Linked DNA regions of Homo sapiens: region 1 is linked to region 2. Evidence: fine-mapped expression QTL. A gene starts in region 2. The other region holds a variant in brackets. All regions are shown on one strand. Distances are from middle to middle.

What was found.
Region 1: its variant is fine-mapped to the expression of OXCT2 in atrial appendage (GTEx, PIP above 0.99). The same link has a PIP of 0.9 or more in fibroblasts, left ventricle, ovary, stomach, thyroid and tibial artery.

What each region holds. Positions count from the first base shown.
Region 1 is chr1:39,523,011-39,536,366 of GRCh38, reverse strand. It overlaps BMP8A (bone morphogenetic protein 8a), which reads right to left. Exons shown (of 7, transcript NM_181809.4): 6 at 13,250-13,356; 7 at 6,498-10,718. The coding sequence ends at 10,569. It also overlaps the pseudogene PPIEL. Among named protein-coding and RNA genes, the nearest start is that of PABPC4-AS1, 35 kb to the left of the region's middle. RefSeq lists enhancers at 12,751-13,250, 13,251-13,356. The variant G/A (reference allele first, on the strand shown) is at 6,929.
Region 2 is chr1:39,768,243-39,776,242 of GRCh38, reverse strand. It overlaps OXCT2 (3-oxoacid CoA-transferase 2), which reads left to right and starts at 4,895. Exons shown (of 1, transcript NM_022120.2): 1 at 4,895-6,720. The coding sequence starts at 4,988. The coding sequence ends at 6,541. BMP8B (bone morphogenetic protein 8b) reads left to right here. Exons shown (of 7, transcript NM_001720.5): 2 at 1,205-1,394; 3 at 1,787-1,935. RefSeq lists enhancers at 4,176-4,848, 4,849-5,522 and a silencer at 4,863-4,962.

The sequences.
Region 1 (13,356 bases), 240 kb after region 2:
TACCCACTGTCTGCACCCCACATTTGTTTATCCATTCATAAGTTGATAGATTGTTTCTACTTTTTGGCTATTACAAATAATGCCACTGTGAACATTCACATACAAATTTTTGTGTAGACATATGTTTTCATTTCTCTTAGATGTAGCCATAGAATTGGAAATGCTGGGTTATATAACTATTTATTTATTTTTTTTTGAGACAGAATTTCACTCTAGAGTGCAGTGGCACAATCTCGGCTCACTGCAACCTCCACCTCCCTGGTTCAAGAGATTCTCCTGCCTCAGCCTCCCCTAGCTAGGATTACAGGCATGCACCTCCATACTCGGCTAATTTTTGTATTTTTAGTAGAGACGGAGCTTTGCCATGATGGCCAGCTGGTCTCGAATTCCTGGCCTCAAGTGATCTGCACAAAGTGCTGAGATTACAGGCATGAGCCACCGTGTCTGGCTGATAACTATTTTTAATGTTTTGAGAAACGACCAGACTGTTTGAAGTGGCTGTACCATTTTGCATTCTTTTTTTTTTTTTGAGATGGAGTCTCACTCTGTTGCCCAGGCTGGAGTGCAGTGGCGCAATCTCAGCCCACTGCAAGCTCCGCCTCCCGGGTTCACGCCATTCTCCTGCCTCAGCCTCCCGAGTAGCTGGGACTACAGGCGCCTACCACCACGCCTGGCTAATTTTTTTGTATTTTTAGTAGAGACATGGTTTCACCGTGTTAGCCAGGATGGTCTTGATCTCCTGACCTTGTGATCCGCCCGCCTTGGCCTCCCAACGTGCTGGGATTACAGGCATGAGCCACTGCCCCATTTTGCATTCTTAACGGCAGTGTATGATGTTTCTGATGCCTCTATACCCTCACCAACACTTGTGATTATCCTTCTTTTTTTATTAGACCTATCCTAGTGATGTGAAGTGGTATCTCATTGTGGTTTTGATTGGCATTTCCGTGCTAGTTAATGATGTTGAGCATCTTTTCATGTGTTTATTGGCCTTCTCTATATCTTCTTTGGAAAAATGTCTCTTCAGACCCTTTACCAATTTTTAATTGGATTATTTGTCTTTCTATTGTTGAGTAAGAATTCTTTTGTTTTTTGTTTTTTGAGACAGGTTCTCACTCTGTCACCCAGCCTGGAGTGCAGTGATGTGATCACAGCTCACTGCAGCCTTGACCCTCTGGGCCCAAGTGATCCACCTGTCTCAGCCTTTCAAGTAGCTGGGACTACAGGTGCATGCCACCAGGCCCAGCTAATTTTATTTTTTGTAGAGACAGGGTCTCCCTGTGTTGCCCAGGCTTGCCTCAAGTGATCCGCCTGCCTTCACTTCTCAAAGTGCTGGGATTATAGGCATGAGTCACCACACCTGACCAAATATAGTCAAGAGTCCTTCTTTTTTTATTTTTGTAGTGACGGGGTCTTGCTCTGTTGACCAGACTGGAGTGCAGTGGCACAGTCACAGCTTGCTGTGGCCTCAAATTCCTGGGCTCAAGTGATCCCTCTGTCTCAGACTCCTAAGTAGCTGGAACTACAGGCATGCACCACAATGCCTGGCTAATTTTTTCTTATTTTTTGTAGAGATGGGGCTCTCACTTCGTTCCCCAGGCTGGTCCCAAACTCCTAGCCTCAAGTGATCCACCCGCCTCAGCCTCCCAAAGTACTGGGATTACAGGCGTGAGCCACTGCGCCCGGCCTTTTCTTTCATTCTATAGGTTGTCTTTTCACTTTTTTGATGGCGTCGTTTGAAGCACAAAATATTTTAATTTTGATAAAGTCTAATTTATCTTTTTTTGTCACTTGTACTTTTGGTGTAGTGATTATGAAGATTTACTCCTACACTTTCTATTAAGTATTTTATGGTTTTCTCTCTTACACTGAAGTCTTTACTCCATTTGAAGTTAATTTTTGTGTATAGTGTGAGGAAAGTGGTCCAGCGTTACTCTTTTACATGTGGATTTTCAGTCGTCCTAGCACCATTTGTTGAAAAGGCTAGTTTTTTTCCTGTTTAATTGTCTTGGTATCCTTGGTGAATATAGTTGACCATAAATGTAAGGGTTTCTTCTGGATTCTAAATTATATTTTGTTGATCTGTATGTCTGTTATTAGGCCATTACTACTGTGTCTTAAATTCCATAGCTTTGTAGTAAATTTTTAATTCTGGAAATGCGAGTCCTCCAACTTTGTTTTTCCTTTCAAGATTGTTTTGGTTATCCTGAGTCTCTTACATTTCTTAAGAATTTTGGGATAAGCTTATCAACTCGTATGAAAAAAGCCAGCTAGGATTTTAATACAGATTGCACTGAATGTGAAGAATTTAGGAGTATCATCATCTTAACAATATTAAGTCTTCTGATCCATGAACACAGGATATCTTTTCATTTGTTTAGGTCTTCTTCAGTGTTTTTCAGTAATGTTCTTTGGTTTTCTTTTTTTTTTTTTTTTAATTGGGATGGGGTCTTGCTATGTTATCTAGGCTGGTCTCGAACTCCAGGGCTCAAGCAATCCTGCCACCTTGTCCTCCCAAAATGCTGGGATTATAGATGTAAGCCACCATGCCTAGCGAGTCAGAATTCTTTAAATATTTTAGATACAGGTCTCTTATCAGATGTATAATTTGCAAATAGTTTCTCTCATTCTTTTTTTTTTTTTTTTAGACAGGGTCTCACTGTATTGCCCAGGCTGGAGTGCAGTGGTGCAATCACAGCTCACCACAGTCTTGGAACTCCTGTACCCAAGTGGTCCTTATGTTTCAGCTTTACAACTAGTTGGAACTATAGGCACACACCACCACACCTGGCTAATTTTAAAAAATATTTTTGTAGACAGCTGTGACTGCACCATTGCACTCCAGCCTGGACAACAGAGCAAGACTCTTCTAAAAAAAATACACACACATATATATATAGCAATTATATTTCTTTTCTTATTTTTGAGACAGAGTCTTGCTATGTCGCCCAGGCTGGAGTGCAGTGGCAGCATCTCAGCTCACTGCAAGCTCCACCTCCCGGGTCCACGCCATTCTCCTGCCTCAGCCTCCTGAGTAGCTGGGACTACAGGCGCCCGCCACCACGCCGAGCTAATTTTTTGTATTTTTAGTAGAGATAGGGTTTCACCATGTTAGCCAGGATGGTCTCGATCTCCTGACCTTGTGATCTGCCCGCCTCGGCCTCCCAAAGTGTTGGGATTACGGGTGTGAGCCACCGTGCCTGGCCGTAGATATAGCAATTATATTTCTATACATCAGCAATGAACAACCTGAAAACAGAATAAAAAGAAAAACAATTATACTTACAATAGCATAAAAAAGAATAAAATATTTAGGAATAAGTTTAAAAGATGTATACAGCTTATACTTTGAAAACCACAAAACAGGCCAGGCATGGTGGTTCACACTCATAATCCCAGCACGTTGGGAGACTGAAGTGGGAAAATCACTTGAGTCCAGGAGTCTGAGACCAGCCCGAGTCAACATAATGAGACCTCATCTCTACAAAAATATATATAATCAATTGTATATTGATTTTGTATTCTGCAACATTGCTAAACTTGTTTAATAGTTCTTTTTTTTTTCTTTTTTTGAGATGGAGTCTCACTCTGTCGCCCAGGCTGGAGTGCGGTGGCACGATCTCAGCTCACTGCAACCTCCACCTCCCAGGTTCACGCCATTTTCCTGCCTCAGCCTCCTGAGTAGCTGGGACTACAGGCGCCCGCCACCACGCCTGGCTAATTTTTTGTATTTTTAGTAGAGATGGGGTTTCACCGTGTTAGCCAGGATGGTCTCAATTTCCTGACCTTGTGATCCGCGCACCTTGGCCTCCCAAAGTGCTGGGGTTACAGGCGTGAGCCACCATGCCCGGCCTGTTTATTAGTTCTAATAGTTTTTTTTGTGGATTTTTTAGGATTTTCTATATGCAAGAGTGTGTCATCTGCAAATAGAAATAGCTTTACATTTTCCTTGCCGATTGGATGCCTTTCATTTCATTTTTTTCACCTAATTACCCTGGCTAGAACCTTCAGTACAATGTTGAATAGAAGTGTCAAGGGCAGATATCCTCGTCTTGTTCCTGACCTTAGGGGGAAAGCATCTTGTCTTTCACATGTAGTTTTCTGTTGATACCTTTTATCAGATTGAGAAAGTTCCCCCTTCCACTCCTAGTTTATTGAGTTTTCATTATGAAAAGGTGTTGGATTTTGTCTACTGCTTTTTCTGTATCTGAGATGATTATGTGGTTTTTGTTCTTTATACTATTGATAATTGTCTATTACATTGATTGATTTTTAGATGTTAAACCAACTTTGCATTCCTGAGATGAATCCACATCTTTTTTGGGTGGCTGTATTTCACTAGATTGTGAGCTCCACCACTGTTAGGGCCAGTGTCCCCAGGGGGCAGGTAGGGGTGGATGTCCCTAAAGTCTGTCTTTATTCTGCTCCTTCACTCCCCTGAGTGTCCCCTCTTCTATTCTGTCTGCAAAGGCAAGGATGGGAAGCCAAGGCAGAAGGTGATCATTGGCAACTGTGGGGAGTATGTGTGAGGCGGCACTCTCTCTGCTCTCCACTCTGCTCTTGCCCCTGCACATCCAGGAAGGAGCTGCCAGCCTCAGAGGAGGCAGCACCGAGGGTGCCCTATTTGAAGCAAGCAGGATTTGTGGCATGAGGCCCACCTTAGGGTCAGCTTGGAGCACCTCTGTAGGCACAGCCTGGACTGTTCCCAAGTGCAGCTGTGGGCCCACGAACCAGCACAGGTGCTCCTTCTCCAACCACCACTTTTCTCGGCATTTGCTGCTGGGTCTGCTGTGGGCCCACCAATGTGGCTCCTGGATGTTTTGTTCTCTTTGGTTTGCTAAAATAAATTCTAGTTCTTATACTGCTGCCTGCCAGCCAGGTCCCAGGTGTTTTCAGAGGTTGCTGCTGGGACAGGCCATAGCATCTCGGCTGCTGCTCTTCTCTCTTAGGCCAAGTCCCTTAGGAGATGCCCTCGGCAGCCCATTGTGGGGCAGTAGAAGTCAAAGCCATGTAAAAGTGCCTGTGTCTTTTCTTTCTGGTCAGTTACCATTCCTGCTCTCACACCAGCTGGTCTTGTGCCTGATGGACATTTGTAATCAGTCTCACTGACCTGGCACTCATTATGCACTTCCTGAACCAACAGAACTGTATTACCGAGGAGCACACAGGGCGCTTCTTTAGTCAGCGGATGTGCTTGGTGCTGGGGAGAAACAAGCCAGGGGTGGCTCCTACTTCCTCCTCCCCAACCCCAGGCCTACCTGGAAACTGCAGTGTGGTGTCATGGTGCGCAGCCTGTGCTAGGATGGCCTCTCACCCTGCACCGATTTTGGGCCAGCCAGGCCACCTCATGGCCTCTTTCAGGTGTTGAAACTGAGCCCTATCAGTCTCCAGAAACCTCCCCCAGGGCTGCCCACTGGCTCCCATGACATGTCCTAGGAGCTCTGTCTGAATCAAGCCTTTTTTTTTTTTTTTTTTTTTTGAGATGGAGTTTTGCTTTTGTCACTCAGGCTGGAGCATGATCTCAGCTCACTACAACCTCTGCCTCCCAGGTTCAAGCAATTCTGCCTCAGCCTCCCAAGTAGCTGGGATTATAGGCACCCGCCACCATGCCCAGCTAATTTTTGTATTTTCAGTAGAGATGGGGGTTTCGCCATGTTGGCCAGGCTGGTCTTAAACTCCTGACCTCAGGTGATCCACCTGCCTTGGCCTCCCAGAATGCTGGCTGAATCAAGTCTTGATGTTGAGTATCCACCAGGGTGAGGGTGGTGGGGAAAGGAGAAGCCTATTGCCCTGGCCCCAGTGACCCCAAGCCAGCTCCACCTCTGGCACCCTGGGTGGGGCTTCTCCCCGCTTGATCAGCTTGGGCCTGCAGCTTTCCCAGCAGGCACTCTCACTCCTCAATGTCGGTGTCATTACTGGTGGTCAGTCATGGCCGTCAGGACAGGCAGCATTGAGGCCAGGATAAGGCAGCTACTCAGGGCTGCCATGAAGCCCAGGAGAGAAGAGGATGTGTGTGAATTGCTCAACACTGTGGGTTCTGGGGGTGACAGGCAGGCTGGCCCGAGGCCCCGGGAGGGAGAACTGGTCCCACAACCCTGTGAAACAAGGGAGGACCTTATTGCTGTGCTTGCCTGATTACCCTGGGAAGGAGGGACCAAGGGACCAGCCAGAGGCCAGTGGGAGAGGAACCATCAGGGTTTCCCCGGAAGTTATCCCAGTGGGTCCATCTGTGACCCTTGTACTCTGAGGTCACCTAAGCCTCAGAGGTGAGGCACCTGCCCCTGCTTGTGCCAATTGCTGCACAGAGAAGGAGAGGAGGTTCTTGGCCCAGGGATTCCAGACCCATGGCCAGCCTCGTGGCCATGCGATCTCAGCACTAGGCTGCCTGCCACCCTGGTCACAGGAGCCCCATCCCGGCCTCTGAGGAAGGGAACGCAAGACCAGACATACAAGGGAGAAGCTAAAGCAGAACTGAAGGGATGGAAGGCTGCTAAAAGTTATGTTTTCAAAGAACATTTAATCACAGAAACTTTCAAAATATTTTGTACATTGAATAGATCCGATCACCAAGCAGTGCATAGAGTAGGATCCTAACTTTGTAAAATATCCATATGTCATATATAAAGAAAGACAAATGTATATGTGCCAAGTAAGAAGACTGGAAGGAATTATGAACAGTGGTTATCTCTGTGATTGATTATGGGTGTTTGTATTCTGGTTTTTGTTATTTTCAAAATTTTCCCCAGCACACAGATAACATTTTCTTACGTGAGAAAAAATTTTTTTTAAAAAGCAGGGGGTGGAGAGCGGCAACTGTTTGCTCAAGACTTTTCAGTAAGGAAAGGAACCTGGGGTAGAAAGCTCCCCCTTCAGCTGCCCATGAGGGCACAGGTGGGCCCCACACTCACTACGGGGCCAGGGCAGGGCC[G/A]CACACCTGCCACTTCCTCAGCAGAGACCCTAGCGCGTGGGTCACTGCTGGCCCAGACTCCTTCCACGAGCAGGCGAGTGTGCAGGGCCACACCTCATCCAAGAGATGATCACGTTTAGGTTTTTGATGAAAAGCATAGCTCTCAGGTAAATACAGCAGCACCTCTAAGCATATTCTGGGAGGAGTGGGTTTTATGAGGAAGGCACACAAGGAACGCCCAAATTTGCAAGTCCCTTTAAAATGAGCCTGCTCAGAATTGCTGTTTATTCCACAGGTCTGCGCAGGCATGGCACTAAGTGTCCCATGGCACATTTGGCCCTCATGGAGGCCTCAAAAGGGCAGGACCAGCACCCTCTTCTACGGAGGAAGGAACGGGCACAGCAGGTACATGATGTGGTCAAATTAACAAGAGGCAGAGGCCGGGTAAGTGGCTCACGCCTGTAATCCTAGCACTTTGGGAGGCTGAGGCAGGAGGATTGCTTGAGCTCAGGAGTTCAAGACTGGCCTGGGCAAAGTTTAAGACCGGCCTGGGCAACATAGTGAGACCTGGTTTCTATAAAAAATTTAAAAATTAGCTGGGTATGGTGGCGTGTGCCTGTCATCCCAGCAACTCGGGCTGAAGTGGGAGGATTGCTTGAGCCCAGCAGGTTGAGGCTGCAGTGAGCCATGACACTGCCACTGCACTCCAGCCTGGGCGACAAAGCAAGACCATGTATGTCTTTAAAAAAAAAAAAAAAAAGGCAGCCAGGACCTGATGCCAGGTCGACTTGGCTCCAAAACCTGCCCTCTCCTTTTCACAGCCTCCTTTCCTGTGAAATAATAGGGAATTTCTCTAAAGCGCATCGCCCGGTCCCTATGTAAAGACAAAGAAACAGGACTTTGCACGCTCACCTGGCATTAGGGCCAGCACTGTGCTGCAGTTGTGAAGATGGCCACTGGGTTGGGGGTTGTTCTGCACCAAATGGCCCCAGACTCCCTGTCAGTGGCTACTTGTTGCAGCCAGTGGGCCTGAGCTGACCACCCTTATTTATGCTCCTGATGTGCAGCCTTGAATGCATCCTGGGCTGTGGGAGGCAACCAGGCCAGAAGATGACCTTGATAGCTGAGCACTGACCCTTCATCAGCTGTGTGTCCTTACGACCTCCTCCCTTTCTGAGGCCTTCTGTATGTGATGTCATTTGGTGGGTGGCTAAAGTTGCTAGAAGTCTGGCCACCAGGAAGGCCACGACTGTCACACTTTGTGCTTTGCTGCATAAAAAGGGAGTCTCATCATGATCCTCAGGCCTGCTGTGCACACCTGATGGGCATAGCAGCGTTTGCGTCTTGAAAACATTCATTTCACAAACTCCTAGCACACCCAAACCATGCCAGGTTACACACTGGGCACTGAAGAGACCACACATTTGTCAGTTTCCGAAACTCTACTGCCCAGTATTGGAAGAAGAGAGCTGTTAAATCAGGTCCTGCAATGGCAGATAGGCCCCAAGTCCTATGGCAGCAGGGGGCTCAGGCCATGTCTCAAGCTCTGGGAGAAGGTCATGGGGGCAGATGGGTTCTCTGGGTTGGAAGAGCCTTTGGAATTAAAGAGTCCTATGTCCTCATGTTGCAGATGAGAAACTGAAGCGTGAATAAGAAAGGGGACTTGTCCTGACACCAAGTCAGTGGCTGAGTTGGAACCAGAATACCTGTCTCCTAACACTCAGGCCATTGCCTCTTCCAATCTCTGCTAGCTGAGCTTGAAGCCTTAGACTAGTGGGGAACTCACCATCTTCCAGACAGCCTGGGCCCACCCTTTATGTACATGAGAGGGTCTCTTCCTCTGCGCTTGCACATGGAGGCCCTCCCTGGTCCAGGTGGAGGGGCTGCTGTCCCGCAGTGTGGCCCCAGCCTCCACCCCTGCTGCTGGACCAGCTCTCCCCAGGCCCCTCCCTGGGGGTGCAGCACGTGAACTCCAGAGAGGCGCATCCTTGGGCCCATGGGGAGGTGGAACCACTCTGCCAGGCTGTGCCTGTGGATGGGGCGGGCCCAGGATCTGCTTTTAATGACACGGTTTGGGCAGCTGGACTCTGTCTGTTCCAGCAGGTAAATTACAGGCTTAGCAAGTCAGAAATCAAATAAACACTCCAACTCCCAGTGGCTGTTCCAAGGAGAACAGCGGTTTCCGGGAACAGTGGAGGCCGAGACAAACCTCCCCACCCAACTCAGCCTAATTACTGCCTGTCACTCCCTGGGACAGGGACCTTTTCTTTGACTCACAGACCCAAGACACAGGACAGCGCTGGTGGGCACCCAGGGTGACGCCAATTTTGGTGGCCAGCTTGTTCATAACTCCTAGACACAAGCAAACACTGGCAGTCCCCACCCTTGCCCCATGCCTGGCCGGAGACTGCCAGTCACCCTGCTTTGGATGGAATGGATTGCTCTGCAGTGGGGCAGGAGGGGGAACTGAGGTCTTATTGACAATGCCTGGTGGTGGCTGTCTGCAGTTCTGTGCTGAGGCCTGGAGGCCCTGTCCTGGTTCAGTGGGAAAGGTACGTAGGTTGATTACTGACATGAGCCATGGGCAAGGGGAGCAGGCTGCGGGGGCATTTGCTCTGTGCCAGCCTACACTACATGTTGGAGCTGCTGGTCTTGCCTCTGTCTCAGTGCTGAGCCCCAAATGGGTCAGCATGGTAGAGATGGTGGAGGGAACTGGAAGCCCCCAGGATTCTTTGCTCCTGTGGGAGTCATACCTCTTTCCCAGGCAGGAGAAGGGGCAGGCCCAGGGCAAGGGAATACACATGACATAAAATATCCCCAGTGGCCAGGCACGGTGGCTCATGCCTGTCATCCCAACACTTTGGGAGGCCGGGCGGGTGGATCACCTGAGGTCAGGAGTTCAAGACCAGCCTGGCCGATATGGTGAAACCCCGTCTCTACTAAAAATACAAGAATGAGCTGGGCGTGGTGGTGGGCCCCTGTAATCCCAGCTACTCAGGAGGCTGAGGCACGAGAATTGCTTGAACCTGGGAGGCAGAGGTTGCAGTGAGCCAGGATTGCACCACTGCACTCCAGCCTGGGTGACAGAGTGAGACTCTATCTGGAAAAAAAAAAAAAAAATCCCCAGTGGCTTCGTGGGGATGTCCAGCTTATTCTTTTTCTAATATGCTAACTGCACCCTGGACCAAATGAGAAGAATCCCAGAACACACTGTGCTGAGAACATAAGCGTGTCCAATTTTGCCCAGAAATGGCCAGTGTTGTACCTGGGAAGAGGCAGAGCCCTTCTCCTCACACCTAAACCCTCTGGTGAATGGAGAAAAGCTCGGGTCAGCCAACCTCAGACCATCCGGGGCCAGCCACAGTCTGACAGGTCCTAAGATAGGACTTCTGTGCTGACTCCAGACAGTGCAGTCAGCACAGGCTCTGAGGCTGCTGTGTGCCTTAGGCCACCAAAGTGTCGGGCAGAGTGACAGCCACAAACCCCAGGGGAGGGGCACAGAGGTACCGAGAAAGGACCAGAAGCCTGACAGGAAGTAGGCACCGAGAGTGAGGGCCCCTGACACTCCTGCTTGAGCTGTGACAGCATTTAAGGGTTTTCTGCCTCTGCAGGGCCCGATCCAGATGAGAAGGGTGGCTGCAGTAGGGCTGGGCGGGCTGACTCAGTGGCAGCCGCAGGCCTTGACCACCATGTTGCGGTGCTTGCGCAGGATGACGTTGTTGCTGCTGTCATAGTAGAGCACAGAGGTGGCGCTCAGCTTGGTGGGTGCACAGCACGCCTTGGGGACTGCGTTTGGCTTCATCAGGTGCACCTGGCCAGGAAGGGAGCACAGGCAGGGGCATGAGGCCAGTGGCCTCCTCTGAGGACCCACCTAGCCCCGCCCCAGCTCCACCTGCTCCCTGCCCTGGCCATCTCCAAGCCACATGGGAGCAGCACAATAATAAGAATTATTAACAGGAATAAGAGCAGCCCTGAGAGCTCTGGGAGCGGGAGCTGTGGTGGCCCACAGTGCCCAGGGAGGGATACATGGCAGCCCCAGGGTGTGGGGCAGGTGGGCAGGGCACTAATGAGGGGCCTCGAGTCCCAGGCCAAGGGCTCAGACTTCCTCCTGGGGATAATGGGAAGGAGAACCTCATGGCCAGGTTTGTGCCCTTAGTGAGGTCCCCAAGGGGGAACCTGGAAGGACCACTGTCTTCTTATAGCCCTTCAGACCCCCCCAGAGGCTCTGCCTCCCCACACCCTGGCCTCCCTCCCCAGGCTCTGGGAGGCCAGGCCTCGCCCCCTCTCCTGTGCTGCTCCTTCTCCCAGAGGACTGCATCCGCCCTCAGCACTTCAAGGCCCTGCATGTGCCCGCACCTCTCCACTCCCCTGGCTCAGCTTGGACCTCTCTTCTGAACTCCAGACTTGCGGATCCTGCTCCCCTTCCCACTTCTGCACTTGGGGGTCTAATGAGGCCTCAGTGGAACATAGAATTCCTCCCGCCCTGACATCATAGCTCCCGCCTGGGAGGCCTCCTGGATGACTCCTTTCGCCTCCTCCCTTCCCTGAGAGCAGCCCCTGGCTCAACCTCCACCTCCGTGCTGCCTCGGACCACCTGCCCAGTCGAGCTGCCATCACCTGCCAGGTGACCACAGCAGCCCTCACTCATCCCCTGCTCCTCTGCCTTCCACTCCCGCGACCATCAGCCTCCCCAAGCCAGAAAGGTCCTTCTGGAGGGTGACGCAGACCAGGACACTGCTTTGCTGAAGACCTCTGACAGCCTCTGGGGTTGCTTGGAATAAAATCCACCCTCCTTCCCAGGGAACCCCAGGCCCTACGGGAGCTGGCCTGGCTCACCCCGGCATCACCTCCCTCCACTCTCCTCCCCTTCACTGCACCCAGCCCCTCTCCTCCCTGCTGGCCCTGAACTTAGGGCCAGCCTGCTCCTGTCTTAGGGCCTTGCACTTGCTCCTTCTGGAACATTCCTCCTCCAGCTGCTGACGTGCCCCTCCTTGTGTGGAGAGGCTGGGCCCAGTCTCACTCCACTGACGGCACGGCTGCTCTGCTCTTCCTCACAGGAGGTGTCAACTCCACGGTTGGTTTGCTTCTGTGCCCACCGACAGCCTCCCCTAGAGCACAGTGCCTGTTTGCTGCCCTGTAGGCTGTGAGCACTCACTCTAGTTGAGCCCCTGAGGGGCAGGGGCAAGGGCAGAGGAGATGGAGTCCAGGAGCTGCAGGTGCAGTCACCTTCCCATGTACCTCCCACACATGCAGCTGTGAGAACCACACGGCATAAAGGGTGGCTGGGCCAGGCCACCCCACGCGTCCTCATCACCCCTGGGCCTTTCCAAGGAGATGGCTCCAGGTGTCCAGCAAACACCATTTGACTGCCCAGAAAGGAAGTATTATCATAGGCTCAGAGCAGCTTTTGGTAATTTCTTTCCTCTCACACCAAGGCATTGTGTGCGCACGTGTGTGTGTGTGTGTGTGTGTGTGTGTGTTTTAATTTTTATTTTAGAGACAGGGTTTTGCTGTGTTGCTCAGGCTTGTCTTGAACTTCTGGGCTCGTGTGCTGCGATTACAGGGTGAGCCACTGCGCCTGATCAAGGCATCACCGTTGAACCTCCTAAGAGGAAAACATAAGGCTGTGCAATACCAGGAACTGGGATTCTAGGTAAAAACTTCTAGAAGGAAGCCTCGGTGCCAGAATCCGCAAACACACAGAGCACTCAGTGGTGAGCAGCACCAGTGATCCCATCAGAAGCCTGCTTTTGTCCTTTAAGGTTGCCCCAGACACCAAGGCATCAAAAGCCAGGGGATCCAGAGAAAACACAGACAGCCAAGAGAGAAACTGCGGGAAAAAGCCAAAAGGTTGAGAGCCACACCATCTAGAAGCTTCCTGCCTGTGGTGCGGCACAGGTGGGTGAGTGCACACGCACACCCCACACACTGTGCGCACATATCACAGGCGGTCAGACTTGCCAGCGTACTCGGGGGCCCGTGTGTTAAGATCACACAGCCCCCACACAGTGTACACATCTGTTTCATGTGCTGTGCCTCTGAGCGCCGCACGCAGGTGTGTAAGTGTCCCACAGGAGTTTGTTCAGTGCATAGAACAGGCATGCATACGCGACTGTTCACGTGTGTCCGTGTTTGGGTGTGGGTCTATGTGTAGTAGTGTGGCTGTATGAGGACCAGTTCCTGCAGAGCTGTGGGAAGTTAGCGACGTTACTGACTCTGTGCAGACAAAGCCCCCGAGACATGGAGCAGGTGGCCTCACTGCCCTCCCGGCTGGCTGGACCAGACCCCTCTCTGCAGGGCCTCCCACCCCAGGGGGCTGGGCAGGATGGGCACGGTACTGACCAGGGACTGCAGGATGGCGTGGTTGGTGGCGTTCATGCAGGAGTCCAGCGGGAAGGAGCACTCCCCCTCACAGTAATAGGCTGAGTAGCCTTGGGGGGCGATGACCC
Region 2 (8,000 bases):
GCAACTACAGCCTTTGTTTGATTGGCAGGCCAGCCCCTGCCACGGGGCCCTGCTGCCCATCTCACTTCCAGCCTGGCCTCTACCCTCACCTCCACTGTGTCTTCTAATTCCCCTCCACCCACGCCGCCTCCCTGCTGCCCCCGTCCCCTGTGCTTCCCACTGGCCAGAGGCGCAGCCCAGGCTCCTGGCCCGGGATTCGCACCCTCAGCAGGCAGGCCGCAGCAGAGCTCATGTGCCGTCCCCAACATCGCTGACCTGTGGGCGCCTCCACCCTGTGCATGCGAGGTCCCCTCTCCCTAGAGCACCCTCCCTGCCACCTTCTCCACCTACCAAGACCCATCCCACCCTTCAAAGCCAGTTCAGATGCCACCTGCTCAGATCCCATCACCCAGTGAGACCCTCCGACTTCCCCAGCACCTGACTGGCCTCTCTGGGAGTTGTCACTCCTGCCCTGGTTTTTCTTGTTCCTTTCCACGTTTCCCTCCTTCCTCTTCCAGCTTGTTCCAGAAAGGAAACGTGGGTCTCCTGCCCTCTGCTGTTTCCTGGTGCTTGCTTTCCCTGCCCTGCCCTCAGACCCCTCTGCTCTGGCCCTCTGCCTTGGCTGGCCGGCCCCTGCAGGGCCCGTCTCCCTGACACCATGGCAGATTCGCACTCATGCCTCAGCCCAGCTCAGCTGTCAGCCCTGAGCCCTCCCCTGCCGCACCTCCCATCCAGGCAGTGGGCAGGCTCTGGATGCCTTGTGTCCCCTGAGATGCCGTCAGTTATGTCGGTTATGTTCCTGTCTACCAGGTTTCCCTGCAGGGCTGGGGCCCTTTTCTGCCTTGGGTCCAATGTCCATCTTCCCTTTAGCCTGGAAGTTCCCAGAGGAGGCTCCCTCCTCTGTCTCATCTCTGAGTCCCAGGACCAGCCGGGCCGAGAAGGGGGCGCAACGGGAGTTCAGGGTTTGGAGCCTGGGGCCTGCTGAGCACCAGCCAGCTGCGGGGCTCAGGGTGAGCCTGGCTGCAGGGCCTCTTGGCCCTGTCTACACCCCGGGACCAAGCCTGGAACAAACGTTTGCACTAAATGAAGCCGGCCCCACCCAGGCCTCCCTGGGTCCGCTCCACCTTGAGTGGTGGGTGGCTGGGGGCGGTGGCTCACACCAGCTCTGCCCCCTCCAGAGCCCGAGCCATTCTGAGTGCCAGCCCAGCGCTGCTTTGTCTTCTAGTGGAGCGAGACCGTGCCCTGGGCCACCAGGAGCCCCATTGGAAGGAGTTCCGCTTTGACCTGACCCAGATCCCGGCTGGGGAGGCGGTCACAGCTGCGGAGTTCCGGATTTACAAGGTGCCCAGCATCCACCTGCTCAACAGGACCCTCCACGTCAGCATGTTCCAGGTGGTCCAGGAGCAGTCCAACAGGTGCCTTCCCCTTGGCCCGGGTGCCCCACCTAACCCCCCACCTCACAGTCTCATGGTCAAGGCAGCCCAGCAGGGAGTCGTGGTGGGCTGAAAGAGAGCCTCAAAGATGGGAAGGATGCTTGGCCCGAGGCCCCTGCACTGTGGGAAGAGCCCCAGTGACAATCCTGACTTCAAGTCCCTGCCCTGCCATCCTGGCTGTGGGGACTTGGACAGGTCACTGAGACTCAGTTTCCCCATGTGTACACCTCTGTGGGCTGAGGCAATGAGATGAGGCTCAGAAGGGGCGCAGCCAGAGTCAGGTGGGAGACACTCCGGTGACAGCCCCCAGCGGGCCCTGGAGACACGGAGGCAGCTGTGCCGGCCGCCGGTTAATTGTTCTTTCATGTCCACAGGGAGTCTGACTTGTTCTTTTTGGATCTTCAGACGCTCCGAGCTGGAGACGAGGGCTGGCTGGTGCTGGATGTCACAGCAGCCAGTGACTGCTGGTTGCTGAAGCGTCACAAGGACCTGGGACTCCGCCTCTATGTGGAGACTGAGGACGGTGAGGCTGGGGGCTCTGCAGCCCCTGGGGCTTCTCTGTGCCAGCACAGGCAGCGGTAGTGGCTTCCTGTGGCCCTGGGTGCCCGGCCTCACCAGCTGTGCCCGCTGCAAGGGTCACTGAGGTCCAGGGCACGAGGTCTGGCCTAGTGGGGGTGCTCCCTCCTCTCCCTCTGCTTCCCAGGAAGCAGGCGGCTCTTCCCACGGAGCAGCCTCCACCTTGGGAGTTTCTGTCCTGGGAAGGGAAGGAGGGGAAGTGGCTGTACCCTCAGGCACTGAGGCCAGGAGGCTGGGTTTGAAGCCCAGCTTGGCAGTGCCCTGCCTCAGTGACCTTGGCTGGGACTTACCTTTCCAGACCCCGTCTTCTCTTCCGCAGGATGGGGATTCACGCCCTTGTTCATTCCACAGGTGACACTGGGGAGAGCCTCTTTTATGCCAGGCAGTAGGAATACAGAGGCCAAAGTGGGCACGAGATGGGTGTGTTTGAGGCCCGGCAAGGGGGCGCCATGGAGCAGCGGTGAGGGCGGGGGACCCAGGGGCCATTCTGAGTCAGAGTAAACCAGGGCCAGGTGCTGGGGTTCTTAGCGTCATTTATTTTATTTACTAGCAGTGGAGGACGACAGGATCTGATTCAGGTTTTAAAAGAGAACCCTCTGAGATGCCCCCCTCTCGGGGTGGAGCAGAGCTCCCCACCCCTTCCGTGGGCTGCACCCAGTGACTTGCTTCCCGAAAGTGCGGTGTGGACAGGGCGTGGGGGACCTGACGCGCAGCGCCTCAGCCAGGTGAGGAAGGCTCACTGCAGTGACCGGCACGGTGCTAGCATGTGCCCTGGGTGAAAGGGAAGGAGAAGGCCACTGAGCCTCAGAGGGCCCCCTCCGTGAACCCAAAACCCCAGTCCAGCCACGAGAAAACCGTCAAACAAACCCAAAGAGAAGGGCTTTCCGCAGAATACCTGACAAGCGCTTCTCAAAACCGCCAAGCTCATCAAAAAAAAGGGAAGGTTGGGAAATTGGAGGAGCCCAGAGGCACCTAAGAAGACCAGCTCAGTGCATGTGGGGTCCTGGGTTGAGTCCTGGACCAGCAAAAGGTCATTAGGGAGAAGTTATGAAATCCAGATCGATCATGGTGTTTACTTAATAATAAGGTATCAGTATTGGTTCATTAGTTATGAGAAAGGTACCCTGCTAGTGTAAAATATTAGCATTTCCCAGAGGAAACTGGGTCCAGGTGTATGGGAACTCCTTGTGTAGTTTTTTTTTCTTTGAGACAGGGTTTGGCTCTGTTGCTCAGGCTGGAGTGCAGTGGCGCAATCACAGCTGACGGTAACCTCCAACTCCTGGGCGCGAGCGATCCTCCCACCTTAGCCTCTGTACTATCTTTACAAAGTTTTATGTAACTATCAACTGTTGTAAAATTAAAACTTAATATATGCATAAAATAAAGAACCCCCTGACTTCAGTGGAGAGAGCAGACTGAGATGGACAAGAGTGAAGTCAGAGAGACGTGTGGGGGCCCCACAGTGGTCCAGGTGGGCGCTGTGAGCGACTTGTTGGTAGCAGTGGAGATGGAGAAAGATGAGTCGATTTCAGTGTCAGGACATGCTTATAGCTGGCGAGGAGGTGAGGGAACAGGAGGAAGCCTGAATGATGTGTGGTTGGAGCCAGTGGATTTTTTTCAATAGATTTTTCTTTTTGGGGAAAAGATAGATGAAGGGCAGGTTTGAGGTGGGTGGCCAAGGGTTCTCTTTTGGCTGGAATATTACTGACCCCCCTGGGATGTTACTGAGATCACTGGTCCTCATGGAAATGCCATTACAGGGACCGGTGAGTGTGAAGACCCAGGCGAGGGAGGTGCTGGCATGTAAGTGGATTTAAAGCATGGGATGGGACCAGGTCATCTAGGGAAGGAGGGTAGTGATGGAGAAGAAAGAGGGCCTGGCCCAGAGCCCTGGGACCTCCAACATCCAGAGACCTCACAAGGAGGGGCCACAGAGAGCCCACAGAGACCAGCCAGGGAGGGAGCAGGACACCTGGAGGATGAGGTGATCTAGACGCCAGAGTAAAGTGTTTCCAGAAGCAAGGGTTTGTCATTTGTGTCCTGCTGTGGGCACTGAAGGCAAGAACAGAGAAGTGACCAAGGGTTTTGCCATCACAGAGGTTGTTGATGACCTAAATATCCGTGGAGTGTGGGTCTGACTGAGGAGGTGGAGGGAGACAGGCAGTGGAGGCAGGAGACAGCTCTTTCCAGAACCTTTGCTGGGGAAGGGGAGCAGAGACATGGGCTGGGGCTGGAGAGAACCCGGGACAAGGCAGGTCCTTTCCAGGTGAGGAGACGCCTGCACGCTGCTGTGGTGATGCAGTGATTCTGTGCAGAGGGAAGAAAACTGCAAAATTCCGCACAAGTTGGAGCAGGGAGCTGGAGTGGGGGAGGTGGAGAGGGCGGGGGGATGCAGAGGACAAGACGGGGGGCCTCTTCAGAGCAGGGACCCTTCCTGATGGAGGTGAGGGATACTGTCCCCACTGTCGCAGTGAGGGGTGAACCTGAGCTCTGGGAGGCTGTAGTGGGGCAGGCACTCACTCTCCGGGTTGTCACAGGATTAAAGGAGGGTGCTTGGCACAGAGTGATGCCCAGTGAAGGTGTTCATGAGCGTCGGTGTCACCCAGCGGCGCCTGCTCATTGGACACTTGGTGTCTTTAATGAGCTGGGGAAGCTGGGGGGAAGCTTGGGCGGGGTGGTTGGAGTTTGTGTCTGAGGCTCCACTGGGGCAGGAGGGGACCTAGCCTGTGCCCTTCTCGCGGAGCCTGACCTCAGCTCTGTCCTGCGCCCGGGCCTGTGCGCTGGACACGGAGGACTGACTCGGGGGCCCCCAGCCCAGGGCGGAGCCGGCCCCCTCCCTGTTGCGGGTCGCGGGCCTAGCCTAGAGCCTGCGCCTGGCCGGGGAGACCTGCTGGGAGGGAGTGCGTCAGGGCGCGGGCGCCCGCCCTGCTCTGTGACGCGCGGCCCGAGGCGCACGCAGGGCTCACACCACCTGTCCTGGCCTCCGACCCGGGCCGACTATGGCGGCGCTGCGGCTCCTGGCGTCAGTGCTCGGGCGCGGGGTCCCCGCCGGCGGCTCAGGGCTCGCGCTGTCCCAGGGCTGCGCCCGCTGCTTTGCCACCAGTCCCCGGCTCCGTGCCAAGTTCTACGCGGACCCGGTGGAGATGGTGAAGGACATCTCTGACGGGGCGACCGTCATGATCGGGGGCTTCGGGCTCTGCGGGATCCCCGAGAACCTGATCGCCGCGCTGCTCAGGACCCGCGTGAAAGACCTGCAGGTGGTCAGCAGCAACGTGGGCGTGGAGGACTTCGGCCTGGGCCTCCTGCTGGCCGCCAGGCAGGTCCGTCGCATCGTCTGTTCCTACGTGGGCGAGAACACCCTGTGCGAGAGCCAGTACCTGGCAGGAGAGCTGGAGCTGGAGCTCACGCCCCAGGGCACCCTGGCCGAGCGCATCCGCGCGGGGGGCGCCGGGGTGCCCGCCTTCTACACCCCCACGGGCTACGGGACCCTGGTCCAGGAAGGGGGCGCCCCCATCCGCTACACCCCGGACGGCCACCTGGCGCTCATGAGCCAGCCCCGAGAGGTGAGGGAGTTCAACGGCGACCACTTCCTTTTGGAGCGCGCCATCCGGGCAGACTTCGCCCTGGTGAAAGGGTGGAAGGCCGACCGGGCAGGAAACGTGGTCTTCAGGAGAAGCGCCCGCAATTTCAACGTGCCCATGTGCAAAGCTGCAGACGTCACGGCGGTGGAGGTGGAAGAGATCGTGGAGGTGGGGGCTTTCCCCCCAGAAGACATCCACGTTCCTAACATTTATGTAGATCGCGTGATAAAGGGGCAGAAATACGAGAAACGAATTGAGCGCTTAACGATCCTGAAAGAGGAAGATGGAGACGCTGGAAAGGAAGAGGACGCCAGGACGCGCATCATCAGACGCGCAGCTCTGGAATTTGAGGACGGCATGTACGCCAATCTGGGCATAGGCATCCCCCTGCTGGCCAGCAACTTCATCAGTCCCAGCATGACTGTCCATCTTCACAGTGAGAACGGGATCCTGGGCCTGGGCCCGTTTCCCACGGAAGATGAGGTGGATGCCGACCTCATCAATGCAGGCAAGCAGACGGTCACGGTGCTTCCCGGGGGCTGCTTCTTCGCCAGCGACGACTCCTTCGCCATGATCCGAGGGGGACACATCCAACTAACCATGCTTGGAGCCATGCAGGTTTCCAAATACGGCGACCTGGCGAACTGGATGATCCCTGGCAAGAAGGTGAAAGGCATGGGCGGTGCCATGGACTTGGTGTCCAGTCAGAAGACCAGAGTGGTGGTCACCATGCAGCACTGCACAAAGGACAACACCCCCAAGATCATGGAGAAATGCACCATGCCGCTGACCGGGAAGCGGTGCGTGGACCGCATCATCACCGAGAAGGCCGTGTTTGACGTGCACAGGAAGAAAGAGCTGACGCTGAGGGAGCTCTGGGAGGGCCTGACGGTGGACGACATCAAAAAGAGCACGGGGTGTGCCTTTGCTGTGTCCCCGAACCTCAGGCCCATGCAGCAGGTGGCACCCTGACGGGACCTGGATCTGGGCGGGGTGGTGCGCTCCTCAGGGCGGGTGCCACCGGGTTCCCCAGGGGAATACATGTCCCCAGCTCTGGGAGGGGTTTGCTACTGGCCTCCTACTTTCCTCCCTAGGTGGACAGTGCTCCTCTAGAGAGCTGCGACTTTAATTAAAAACAACAGGAAAACAGATCAGTTCCTCACTGTGTTTCTCGAGCACTGCAAGGCGCAGGTCTGCAGTGGTGAGGAATGGATGTCCGCTTTGCTCTGTGATGTTTACACAGAGCGTGCACAGCTCAGTGCATTCACAGCAAGATTTGATTCAAGCGCCTCCCTCGTACTTGAACCATGAAATGGAGATAAAAACTGACGAGGGAGAAAATCACTCAACCCAGAGTACACCTGAAGGGACATTTTACTACTGCAGTGAGAAATAGGCGAGCAAAGATGTGAGTTTGTGATTGGAAGACATGCTATCTTCACGAGCTTGTTTTTTCTTTTTCCTTCTCTTTCTTTTTTCTTTTTTTTGAGGCAGGGTCTGGCTCTGTCGCTCAGGCTGGAATGCAATGGAATGCAGTGATCTCACTGCAACCTCTGCCTCCTGGGCTCAAGCAATCCTAATTCAGCCTCCTGAGTAGCTGGGACTACAGGCGCACATCACAATGCCTGCTTATTTTTTTTTATTTTTTAAATTTATTTATAGAAATGGAGTTTCACCATGTTGCCCAGGCTGGTCTTGGACACTTGAGCTCAAGCGATCCACTTGCCTCAGCCTCCCAAAGTGCTGGGATTACAGACATGAGCCACTGAGTTGGGCCAATTAACCTTAGCTTACTGTAATTTTTTTTCTTTTTTAGACAGAATCTCGCTCTGTTACCTAGGCTAGAGTACAGTGGTCCAGTCTCAGCTCACTGCAACCCCTGCTTCCTGGGTTCAAGCAATTCTCATGTCTCAGCCTCTCAAGTAGCTGGGATTACAGGCATGTGCCACCATGCCTAGCTAATTTTTGTATATATATTTTTAACAGTAGAGATAGGGTTTCTCCATATTGGCCAGGCTGGTCTCAAACTCTGGGCCTCAGGTGATCCACCTGCCTTGGCCTCCCAAAGTACAGGCTTGAGCCATTGCACCCAGCCTTCTTGAACGTTTTTATCCGTTATCTGGTATTTCTTCTGGGGCCTTTGTTGTTAAATTTTGTTTCCCTGAAGCCTCCCCTCCTCCTCCCACATCTCTCCTCCTGGGACCTATGAGATGTTAAGCTTCTAGATGTCCGTAGAAGGAAAGCAGGACCATCTCCAAGGGAAGGGACCGGGTGATGGGAGAGACTGAGAGGGGAGAGGCTGCCGGTGCTGAAATCCACCAGGAAGCTTCCTCTGTGTGTGGCCAAAGGCTACAGCCTAGGACAGGAGGAGTTCTAGAACCCTAACCAAGGGACTAGATGAGTTTTCTCAGCTTCATTTGAATTGTTCCTG